Linked DNA regions of Homo sapiens: region 1 is linked to region 2. The links come from fine-mapping of genetic effects on gene expression. A gene starts in region 2. The other region holds a variant in brackets. All regions are shown on one strand. Distances are from middle to middle.

Region 1 (5,383 bases), 96 kb after region 2:
ACCTTCCCAACACCACAGACCTCAAATTCCTCCAGCAGACAGTGGGCTTGGTGTAGGGTCTCGGGTGCTGGAGGGTTTTTCTCAGTGTCCTGATTGCTCAGCTGTCACTGAGGCCTTGACACGTGTGCCAGAGGAGGGTCTCACTCCACACTCAGACCCCTCCTCACAGGAGGCCTCTTGTTTCTCCTTGCAAGGCATGAAGTCGGGGGGAGGGGGTTCTCCTGGTCCAGCTCAATTTTTGGCAGGCCCTTTTTATTCCAAGCTTTGGGGGTGAGGTTTTCTCAGGGTTCCTGCCCCGCTACCTCCGTGGCAGCCAGACTCCACCTTTTATCTGTGAGGGATCTTTGTGGTGAAGTGTATACAGCTTCTTCCCTAATCGAACTCTGCTTGTATCAGTGCAGGAACTTGGGCTGAACAGGTTTCTTACCCCTTCCTCTGGGGCAGAATGCTTTTTACTGGGTACAAGTCTTGTGTGGGGGACAAATGGAAGGGTGGGGGTTTACTGCCCTTCCCTTAAGGGCAGACAACTTTTGCTTCTACTCACCCTCCCCCTCAAGTGGTTTGCCTTTGCCTGCCTGCGATTAGGGGTGGGGGACAGGGTGGCTCCTTTCTTCTCCCCCGTGTGCTTCACGTTTTTACCATGGGTTTCACGATAATGGGCCTGGGAAGTAGGTGGGCTTTCATGTCCCTACCACCAGTGGGGTCTCCCTCGGGTCTTCTGCTTTCTCCAGGGCTCCCAGTGCAGGCCTCTGGAACAAGCTCATGAGTGGATGTGAACTAAAGGAGCATCCAGGGATCCCTGGGGTCCTGAAGTCAGGCAAGCCTATTCTTGCCCTTTAAGAATGTGTTAGAAGTGTATCTATTTTCTTACTACCCACTTTTTTGGCAGAGGCCATCTTTCTCCTGTGCTCTGCCTAAGGTGCAGTAGTTCCTGTGTCCCGTTTTTCCTCAGAAGGGCTACTCTTTGGAACTCAGTCCATGGTGAGCTGAAGCTGGCTCACACTGGCTCATGAGACCTGGCTGCACATCTCTGGGTCAGCAGCATGACATTGGTAGCTTGAAACTGACAAATCCTTCAAATTAGCACCCTCCCTTTCTCCCACTGAGGACCAATTATTAAACATACACCAGCTCACCACCTAATTCAGGTTACCTGATTGCTTCATGATGGTAGCTCTTTGGGCTCAAGAAAAGGAACATTTTTGTATAATAGATTATCTGACTTTTTCTTATTGGTATAGGAGCAATATTCTCGAGTTTTATACATTCTAAGCAGAAGTAGAACTCAGTGTTGTTTTTGTTTTGAGAACTAGTGAGGTAGAACAGTTTATTCAAGTTCATTAGCCGTTAGAATTCCTTCTTTATGGAAAGGATGTTGAAAGGTGAACCACATAATAGATCACAGTCATGGTTTGGGAAAGGAAGGTCTCCAGAGAGATCAGGATGAGCTGTGAGGGAAAAAGACAAGGAAAACTTACCTTCTGTGAAAGAAATAAAATCCCCAAGGGAGTCTAACGTCTTCAGTGTATGAGAGAAACTTAACAGGAAAAATCAGAAGCTTGTCAACATATAAAATCTTTTGTTATGGAATCCCACAGGGGAACGGTTGACGTCAGCCTGACTGAACCATACTGCAAGTCAGTCCCTTGGGTGTACACCACCCCCCACCACAGGGCGGCACTGTGCAGCTGGGAAAGAGATGGAAATGCATACGCTGTTGAAACTAATTGCTTTCTCATGATGCCTAGTGGGTCCTTGGGCAGGGTTTTGTAAATGGATGAACTTGGGACGTCTGCCATGGAGTTAACATGTATCCAGAGTGGCAAGAAAAGACTAATGGGAGTGTATTTACAATCTGTACAACTTATTTTATGTACTGGGTCTGACCTTGTCTCCATTCTTTTTTGCCTGATTATAATAAGGCTAATGTTCCATTTTAAGTGCCTGCTTTTTAAGTTTTCTGTGACAGATTTTTAAATCCTGGTCTACTATTCTTTCCCATGATACCTCAGCCTACCCAGTGTAGGATCAAGAAATGTGTATTTATTTTATCATTTTCTTAAGCCAAATATTAGGAATTCGAATATGTTGTCATAAAAAGAATTCAAATATGTTGCCACCTCAAGTTAGAATAACTTTTGTTCTGTTACTTGTGCCACTGTTTTTCTCCATTAGCAGGAAGCAACAAGCATGAACTATGCCTCTGTACAACTCCTAGGTAGTTTTTCTAGAACTTGTTTCTCAAGTTGACATAGCTCTTTCTTTCCAATTCTGACAGGTATACAATAAAAGGCATCAGGAACCTGATTTTCTATGAACTGCCGACATATCCACACTTTTACAGTGAAATCTGTAATATGCTGAGAGCCACCAACAGAGGAGAAGAGGCCACGTGGACCTGCACTGTTCTCTACTCCAAATATGATGCCCAGAGGTTAGCTGCCGTGGTTGGTGTGGAGCGGGCGGCACAGATGCTACAGTCCAACAAGAATGTCCACCTCTTCATTACTGGAGAAAAATGAAATTTTGTTGGGCAGGAAGTGGTATTTGGCATGATACATAATGTTTGATTCTATGCCATTTGGACCCAATTCTGATTACTTACAGAAGAAGGACTGATACAAAGAAAGTGCATGAGGCAATGTCAGTATTATCTGACATCTTTCTTTTCAGGTCATGTGTCCCTGAAAAGTTAAATGTAAACCAGATTTTGGTAAATCCCATCTTTCAGAAGTGAAGAGGGGGCTAGAAGGACTCTGAGAAGTTGGTAGAAGAAAACTCCCACTTGTGAATATTTTTGTGAGACATAAATTCTTTTATTACGATTTACCTCTAATTTATTACACTTAGTAAATTCTTCCAGATTTTTCTATTTGTTTGACACTTCCTTAAAGTAAGGAATACACATTGCTTGCGAGAACTGGTTATGAGACATTGGAATACTTCTTGCTGCTACATGTCATCTTAATTTTGGATGGCATGGGTTTTGTAAAACTTATTCTGCCCCAGCCAAACTTTTTTGAAACCTTAAATAGTCTACCTTAATTCAGCCTAGAAGAGTACATTGATTTACTGATCTTTTTTCATATTCATAATACTAAATGTTTTAGTTTTGTTCAAATATATGCTTAAAATCACGTTATTTAAAAAACACATCAGCTCTGTCTCAAGAAGTAATTTTGTTGAAACTCCATGTTAAAATATCCATCTTCAACAGTAGTGTCTTCATAATAACTAGTCATTTTTTCAGTCA[T/TA]AAACAGATGCAAATAAAAAGGAAATTACACTTTTAAAAACATTTTTATTTTGAAACATTCTCAAACAGAAAAATTCCAAGTACAGAACCTGAACCATTTGAGAGTGAGTTGCCAACCCAGTGGGCCTATCACCTTTAAATACTTTAGTATATATTTCCTGTAAACAATTAAGGGTATTGTTTGTGATTAGGAATGCCCCACCAATAAGGATAATGTGAATATTTCAGAATCCAAAAAAATTCGAAACACGTCTGGTCCCAAGCATTTCAGATAAGAGATATTCAACTCATCCTAGTATGGACTCGTAGTTTCTTCTTTTATTCAATGGGTTACGGTTTGTTACATCATTATTTCTTTAGATGCGTAACTGGTCTCAAATATGGCCGCTGGGAGCACCTTCAGGTTAGCCCCTGTGTACTTTTGACATGTCCCCCATCTACTTGGGCACTGCTGTATTTTTTGACAATGAGACATTCCAGGTTTCTCTACTCCAGCCCTGCTTGCTTTTAGTAGGAAATTATTATAAAAGGTTAGATTGGAGTGCTTACTATTGTGGTGCCACTCATCCCAGGCTCAGTGGTCAGAACTTGGGAATTGTGTACATGTATGCACACACATATGTACACACGTTGTCTAAATTTGCTTCACATTAATATCTAAATTTACTTTCATATCCATATATTGAAAACCATGAATTCACACCAGTACCTCCAATTCTAGTCCAACAACACAGGATTGCTTCTCATTTTCTTTCCATATTGATAACTCCTTTCTCAGACAGTGGCTCCCATTATCCTCAATGTAATAACCCATGATTGGTACAGATTTTTTTTATCCTTGGGCACGCTTAAAATTACTTAGCAAAAACAAAAAGTAAAATCAGTTTTGAAGTAATATTTCTGCTAAATATTTAGACATTTTTACTTCTTTTTCTTCAGCATGGTAAGTAAAACCATTTATTCCATATTTAGATGGTTTTCTAAATTTCAGAAAATTTAGTTAGATAAAAGCCGACCGAACCCATGCTACAAAGAACTTTTTGTATCTATAGGCATGCCCTGTGGTTACTGGCGTAATTGTGCTGCTGTTTATCATAGATCCTGTATATTATGAGAATAAGAAATGAGTTTATTTACCTCATTCAGAAATGTGAGGCGAAGGGACTGTAATTACCTGGATCTTTTTTTTTTTTTTTGAGATGGAGTCTCGCTCTGTTGCCCAGGCTGGAGTACACTGGCATGATCTTGGCTTACTGCAATCTGTGCCTCCCGAGTTCAAGCGATTCTCGTGCCTCCGCCTCCCAAGTAGCTGGGACTACAGGCGCATGCCACCATGCACAGCTAATTTTTTATATTTTTAGTAGAGATGGGGTTTTGCCATGTTGGCCAGGCTGGTCTCAAACTCTTGACCTCAAGTGATCTGCCCACCTCAGCCTCCCAAAGTGCTGGGGTTACAGGCCTGAGCCGCCACGCCTGGCCAATTACCTACATCTTTTTCTACTGCCATATTCTTTTGCCTGTGAATTGTAGTTCATCTCGTGGTTTCCATTATTACTATTCACACGACTCCCAAATCTCCAGCTTCTCTGGCTCTCCACTCACATGTGAGTCTGGATTTCAAATCCATGATGTAGCCCCAGAAATAACCATTTTATTAAGCACCCCTAGTGATTTTCATGCTGGCATAGAGCCAAACCCAGCCAACTGCTTCTTGCCTGCAGAGAACACTGAGGATTTCAAGTGTGAACAAAGTAGTGTTGCTTTGTTCCTGGCTCAGCACCTGAAAAGAAGGTAAGCCTCTGCAGTTAGCCCTGGCTCCTTAGTGCATTGCAGAGTGGAGTCTCTGCAATGGTTTTATTAAAAGGATGCCTTGAAGATCTGGTCTCTCTCAACACACAATAAGCGAGAAGAGAGGCTACTGAAATACGGATGCGTGAGCTGGAATTACACACTACCTTGATGTTAACAAGGCTCATTTGCAGCAAGCAAGTGCCTATATAGGGTCTGAAATATAGACAAAGGATGGTCCCAATCCTGGAAACAGTGGAATTAAAAGGTATGGAAAGGAACTTACCCAGAAAGTAACACTTTTAAATGTTTTTTCTTTTCCCATAGTTAAAACAACCAGCT
Region 2 (5,383 bases):
ATGACCATCAAAAAAGGGAGCCGTTGTTCCCATTGAACCTGGAAATGATGAGGAGAAGCAAAGGATACTGGCCACTAAAAGCCTGGTGCCCAGCTCAAGAGCAGCCTGAATTAAACCCTCTATTGGAGGCCAGCTGATGATTACACTACAAATCTCTACTTGAGCTTAATTTGGTAAATTCATTTTCTTAAATCCATTTTATCTAGATTTTAAAAATCATTAGCATAGTTACACAAATGACTCTCTATAATTAATTTCCACCGTATCGTGGCTACTTTCCATGTATCATTCCTAAACTTTTATAATGTCTTTTCTCTTTTTTAAATTGATTTGGCTCGCTGATATTTTATTTTATTGATTTTGTTTTCTATTTGTATGTCTACCATTCCTCCCCCTGCCAGATGCACACACAAAACTGAATTTTTTTTATCAATTTTAAACAGGATTCTAACTTATTATATATTCTCCTTTTATCATTTCAAAATTCTCACCTCCTTTTTTTCTGATCATTTTTTAGCAATTCATTTGAAAATAAATGAATAGGAAATTTATTTTTAATCTTCTTGATTTAGGTAATGAAAATGTTTAAAGCTAGGAATTTTCCTTGCATTCTGCTTGGCCATACCTCACAGATTTTCCTCATAATGTTGCCACTATCACCGTTTTCAATGCATTCTTAATTGCAGATTTGAAATTCCCTCTATCTTTTCAGAGTAAATGGGAAGAATTTTTTTCCAAGAAGTTAAAGTGTTTCTTTCTTCCATCTTTTGTTATTTATTTCAATTGTATTGTACTGTGGTCAGAAAATCCTGCCATAATAGATCAACTTTTCAAAACATATACTGAGGTTTACTTTTTGATCCATATGGTCAATTTTTTTAATGTCTCGTGGGCATTTGAAAATAAGGTATATTTTCTATTCTCAAAGTTCTGTGTGTGTGTGTGTGTCTTTTTCAATATAGATAGATAGGTATGACAACCTTATTAATTGTTTTGTTCTCAGAACACAATGTTAAGGGCTCAAACCTACTGTCAAGCAAACCTGGGTCCAACACTTTCTGTGTGATCTTGAGCATATCATTGACCACTCTAAATCCCAGTTATCATGGGATTAGTATCCCAATGACTGCGGACTTTGTAGACATTTCTTTCTGATGTTTAATGGAGTCCAAATAGTAGGTCTCTATAGGAACTCCTATTAAAATCTCCTGTCTTTCTTTACGCTCTAATGCCCTGAACTCCCAGAATCTTCTCACTCTTCTATGCCAATAAAAATTCTCTGGCCAGGCGTGGTGGCTCATGCCTGTGATCGCAGCACTTTGGGAGGCCGAGGCAGGTGGATCACCTGAGGTCAGTAGTTTGAGTCCAGCCTGACTAACATGGTTGAAACCCCATTTCTACTAAATACAAAAAATTATCCAGGCATGGTGGCGTATGCCTGTAATCCCAGCTACTCAGGAGGCTGAGGCAGGAGAATTGCTTGAACCTGGGAGGCGGAGGTTGCAGTGAACCGAGATCGCGCAATTGCACTCCAGCTTAGGCAACAAGAGTGAAACTCCGTCTCACTCTGTCGCCCAGGCTAGAGTGCAGTGGCACATTCTTGGCTCACTGCAACCTCTGCCTCCCAGGTTCAAGCGATTCTTGTGCCTCAGCCTCCCAAGTAGCTGGGTTTACAGGCACATGCCATGACATCCGGCTAATTTTTTATATTTTTGGTAGAGATGGGGTTTCACCATGTTGGCCAGGCTAGTCTTGAACTCTTGACCTCAAGTGATCCACCCACCTGGACCTCCCAAAGTGCTGGGATTACAGGTGTGAGCCACTGTGCCCGGCCAAAATTCTCTTTTTCTGACATCTTGGGCTCCCCAAGCCCTCTGTCCTCTACTCATTCCCATCTCTATGTGTCAAGCTCCAGACACAGGGCCTTGAGCTGTTGTCTCTCATCCTGAGTAAATGCCACTTGTCTTCAGTCCTAGTGCTTGAGAATCCATCCTCTGCTTTTCCCTGCCGATTCCTTGTCCTTTTTCTCCTCAAAGAACAGAGAAAGAAGCAGAAGCAGAGAAAATGGTGACAAACTCTCCACATGTTAATAAATGTTATCACAGCTATTTTTAAGTCTCATTACCTGCCTCACATGTGTCAAACCTTAGAATTCCAAAGAGCCACATACATCACCCAACTACCACAGTGAGTAGCATCCAGACAAGGTGAATTTTACAAGGTTACAAAGCTGCTCAGTTAACTTGTCCCAATCCAGTTTCCTCTCCACTATTTTAGCCTGAACTTCTTGGGAATTTCCTGGCTGCATCATTTGTGATGGCTTCATCTTAATGCATGCAAATCAGTTCCCTTTAGTTTTTCCCTAAATTTCCTAGTCCGGTTGACCAGATAAAAAAATGTGTAGAAGACTCTGCCTTCTATTCCTTCCTTCATCCCCCAGCTACCCACCTTTACACTCCCTCCTCATTGCTCCAGAAAGGAGCAAATCCAGAGTTGGTCTCATTCCAGAATCTGAGAAAGACACCACCTACTTCAGAAGAGCAGAAACTCTTTACAACACCAGGATTGGGAAGAGGTGGCTAAAGAAAAAGGAAAATCCTTACACAAAGAACTACCTGATACACATGAAAGCCTACACTGAGAACATCTCATCTAGGTCTTACCACCAAAAAGGCATTTTTTTCCCTCTCATAGAAACCACAAAGGTCTGAATCTGACCCAGAGGACTATCCTTTTCTAATCATGGAAAGGAATCTTGACTTGAAACTGTCCAAGAGCTCCGACCAATCCAGTAGCAAGAGAAAGGGTGGCCGGGGTGCCTACTGATGGGAGGAGCTCCTGAGCCCAGCCCTGGAGGCCTCAGAGTTCAGGGGCCCACTTAGATGATACCAGAGAGCAAGAGAGAGGAACTGGGGTTTGCGAACCTTGTGGCTTTGTCTGTTTCCTGTTTCAGCAAGGCTGCTGTGCAAAAAGAAAGACGGTACCAAGAAGGGACGTGTTAATGGGGCCCAGACCTATGGATTGAAAGCGTGTGCTTTACCCATCTGCTGTCTTGCTCCATCTGAGACCAGAGCCAAGATCTGCCCAGGACTGGAATGCTTTCCCGAGTGGCTTGAGTTGGAGCCTGGGACTAGGAGGTAACTGAGAAGGAGGATGCTTTTGTGTCCAGGTTTGGGAACTCCAACTTCGGGGTAGGGCAGAAGATGCTCTACCATCCCAGCTCCCCTGGGTGGAGAGTGGGTGGCATAGTTTAAGGGTGTCAGGGGTTTGGGTAACCAAGAAAGTATCCTGTATTGGTTTCCTGTGGCGCTAGCCATGGCACAGGGTACAGCTTGCACCACTCCTCTGTTCCAGTAGATTAGATTACATTAGATTAGGAGTGAGTCAAACGACTTAGAGTTCAGGCTACCCAGTGATATGGGCATGAATTAAATGACCTTTTACAGTTTTCTTCAAAGCAGGGATCCCTGAACACAAGACTGCCTTCCCAGCAGCTTAAGCGCAGGCCCCTCTCCCCTCAGTTCACACTGAGAGCTCTGGGCCAGGAAGGCCAACCCATGCAGGAAGCCATTCATTGTCTCCATTACAAACATGGCCAGGAAGTAAAAGCGAGACTCAGAAAGGCATGTCAAGCCACAGTCAGGTGAGGAGCCATGCCCTGTTCTCTCTCTGCAGCCTGAGAGACCAGGCTGAGCCTTCCCAGCCAGTAAACCTTCTTCCTCCAAGCTCTAAGTGAGCCCAGTCATGCTGCCAGGGGGGAACCTGAGAGATGCCAGAAAGCCTGGGCAGTGGCCAAGTGATCTTTCTTTGAACCCTACAGGGACCAGTTCCCTTTTCTTTAGCAGCCTACCCCTGTCAGCCGTCCCACATACCTTCTTGTTTTCAAGCAAGTCAGTAGGGTCCAGATATCCCAGAAACCTGGGTAGGGTTCTATGCAGCATGCTGCACCAAATCCTAGCAGGTGTGGTAGCCAAGGCATCTGGGAACACTCCCCTCTCTAAGGAGCCATTTCCACTGCAGCTCCTTTCTTGGGTAAGAAGGCTCCATGTCTGCCCCAAGGAAGCAGAGAGCAGAGCAGCTGTGTGTTTCAGTGGACTAAGGTTGGTGGCCTGGGTGGAGAGCCCAGAGAGACCTCATCTCAGGCACTGTCTTCTCCCCCACAGCCCTTTCCTCTTCGCGGCAAGAAGGTAGGAGGATTCTCAATGTTCTGCCTCCACTACAAAACCTGTGGGGAAGCTGAGCCAAACAGGGAGGGGACCTCACACCTTATGTGTGACACAGGCAGACCCCATCTCTTCCTTACCTTTCGGCTTGGTGTAATTGGGATGGCAATTATGTCCAGACCACAGAGAAGCCTTTCTCCTTATAGCCCAAACCCAGAGGTCAGAAGTAAATGTGACTTCAGCCTGGGGCCAGCATCCCCTCAATCTGGTAAACAATATACTCTGTCAAAGAGAGAGAGGGTTGAGAGGATGAGAGAAGGCATTCTTGGTCCTAGAAGTGCTAGTTTAGCTTGGAGCCTTTGTCTTACAGCACCAAGTCTTCAATATCCAACATCGGCATAACAAGGATAATATTCGCAATTACTTTTGCACCAACCTAATAGGAATACTTTATGTCTTTATTATTAAAAGGTAACATTTATTGTGTGCTCCATGCCAGGTGCATGGCCTGCATTTTGTCATTTAATCCTTATAACCTACAAGGCAGGTCCTAGCCCCATTTTATAAATGAGGAGACTGGGGCTTAGAGATGTTTAATAGCTTATCTAAAAACACACACAGGTTGTAGGTGACAGAGCCAGGACATGAGTCCACGCAGTGTGACTCCAAGAGCCAGGGTTCTCCACTGCAATCCATGGCAGAATAGCCAGGGGCTGTGGCTCAGGGATGCTGTGAGTGTAGGTTCTAGACATGGAGTTCACATGCACATAATCCTGCGTCTCCTCCATTCAGTCATTTATAACAATAGACATGGGTCTCTCAGACCCTTTCTTTTAAGTCTTTAAATAAAGAAAGTGGCAGGGAAGAAGTCAAGGGACCACCCCCTATGCCCACTCCCACCCTTATCCGAGAAGAAGAAGTAAGGAAAAACAAAGAAGAGAGCCATTCAGAATGGGTATGTAGAGGACAAACATTAATAACCTCACATTTCTGCTTGGAATCAATGCTGCCTGACACCAGAGTATGCCCCTCCAACCCTCAAGAGTCAGGCATTTGAGTGTCCAGGGCTTGACCACACAAAACTCCTCTCAGGGAAGAAGACTGCCCCACCCATGACCCTGGGGAATGAGTGGTAGGATCAGAGAGAAAACAAGAATCCTGCAGAGAATTCCAGACTGAGCCAGAGTAGCGAAGTCCCAGTAAAGGGGCAGAGAGTCTGC

What was found. PIP is the estimated chance that this variant, and not a neighbour inherited with it, causes the effect. A credible set is the group of variants that fine-mapping cannot tell apart.
Region 1: its variant is the best candidate, but not a certain one, in a credible set for the expression of TRAF3IP3 in whole blood (TOPMed, PIP 0.53).

What each region holds. Positions count from the first base shown.
Region 1 is chr1:209,848,926-209,854,308 of GRCh38, forward strand. It overlaps UTP25 (UTP25 small subunit processome component), which reads left to right. Exons shown (of 12, transcript NM_014388.7): 12 at 2,279-5,383. The coding sequence ends at 2,522. Among named protein-coding and RNA genes, the nearest start is that of UTP25, 24 kb to the left of the region's middle. The variant T/TA (reference allele first, on the strand shown) is at 3,254.
Region 2 is chr1:209,753,173-209,758,555 of GRCh38, forward strand. It overlaps TRAF3IP3 (TRAF3 interacting protein 3), which reads left to right and starts at 2,881. Exons shown (of 17, transcript NM_025228.4): 1 at 2,881-3,137. RefSeq lists enhancers at 2,604-2,763, 3,044-3,453.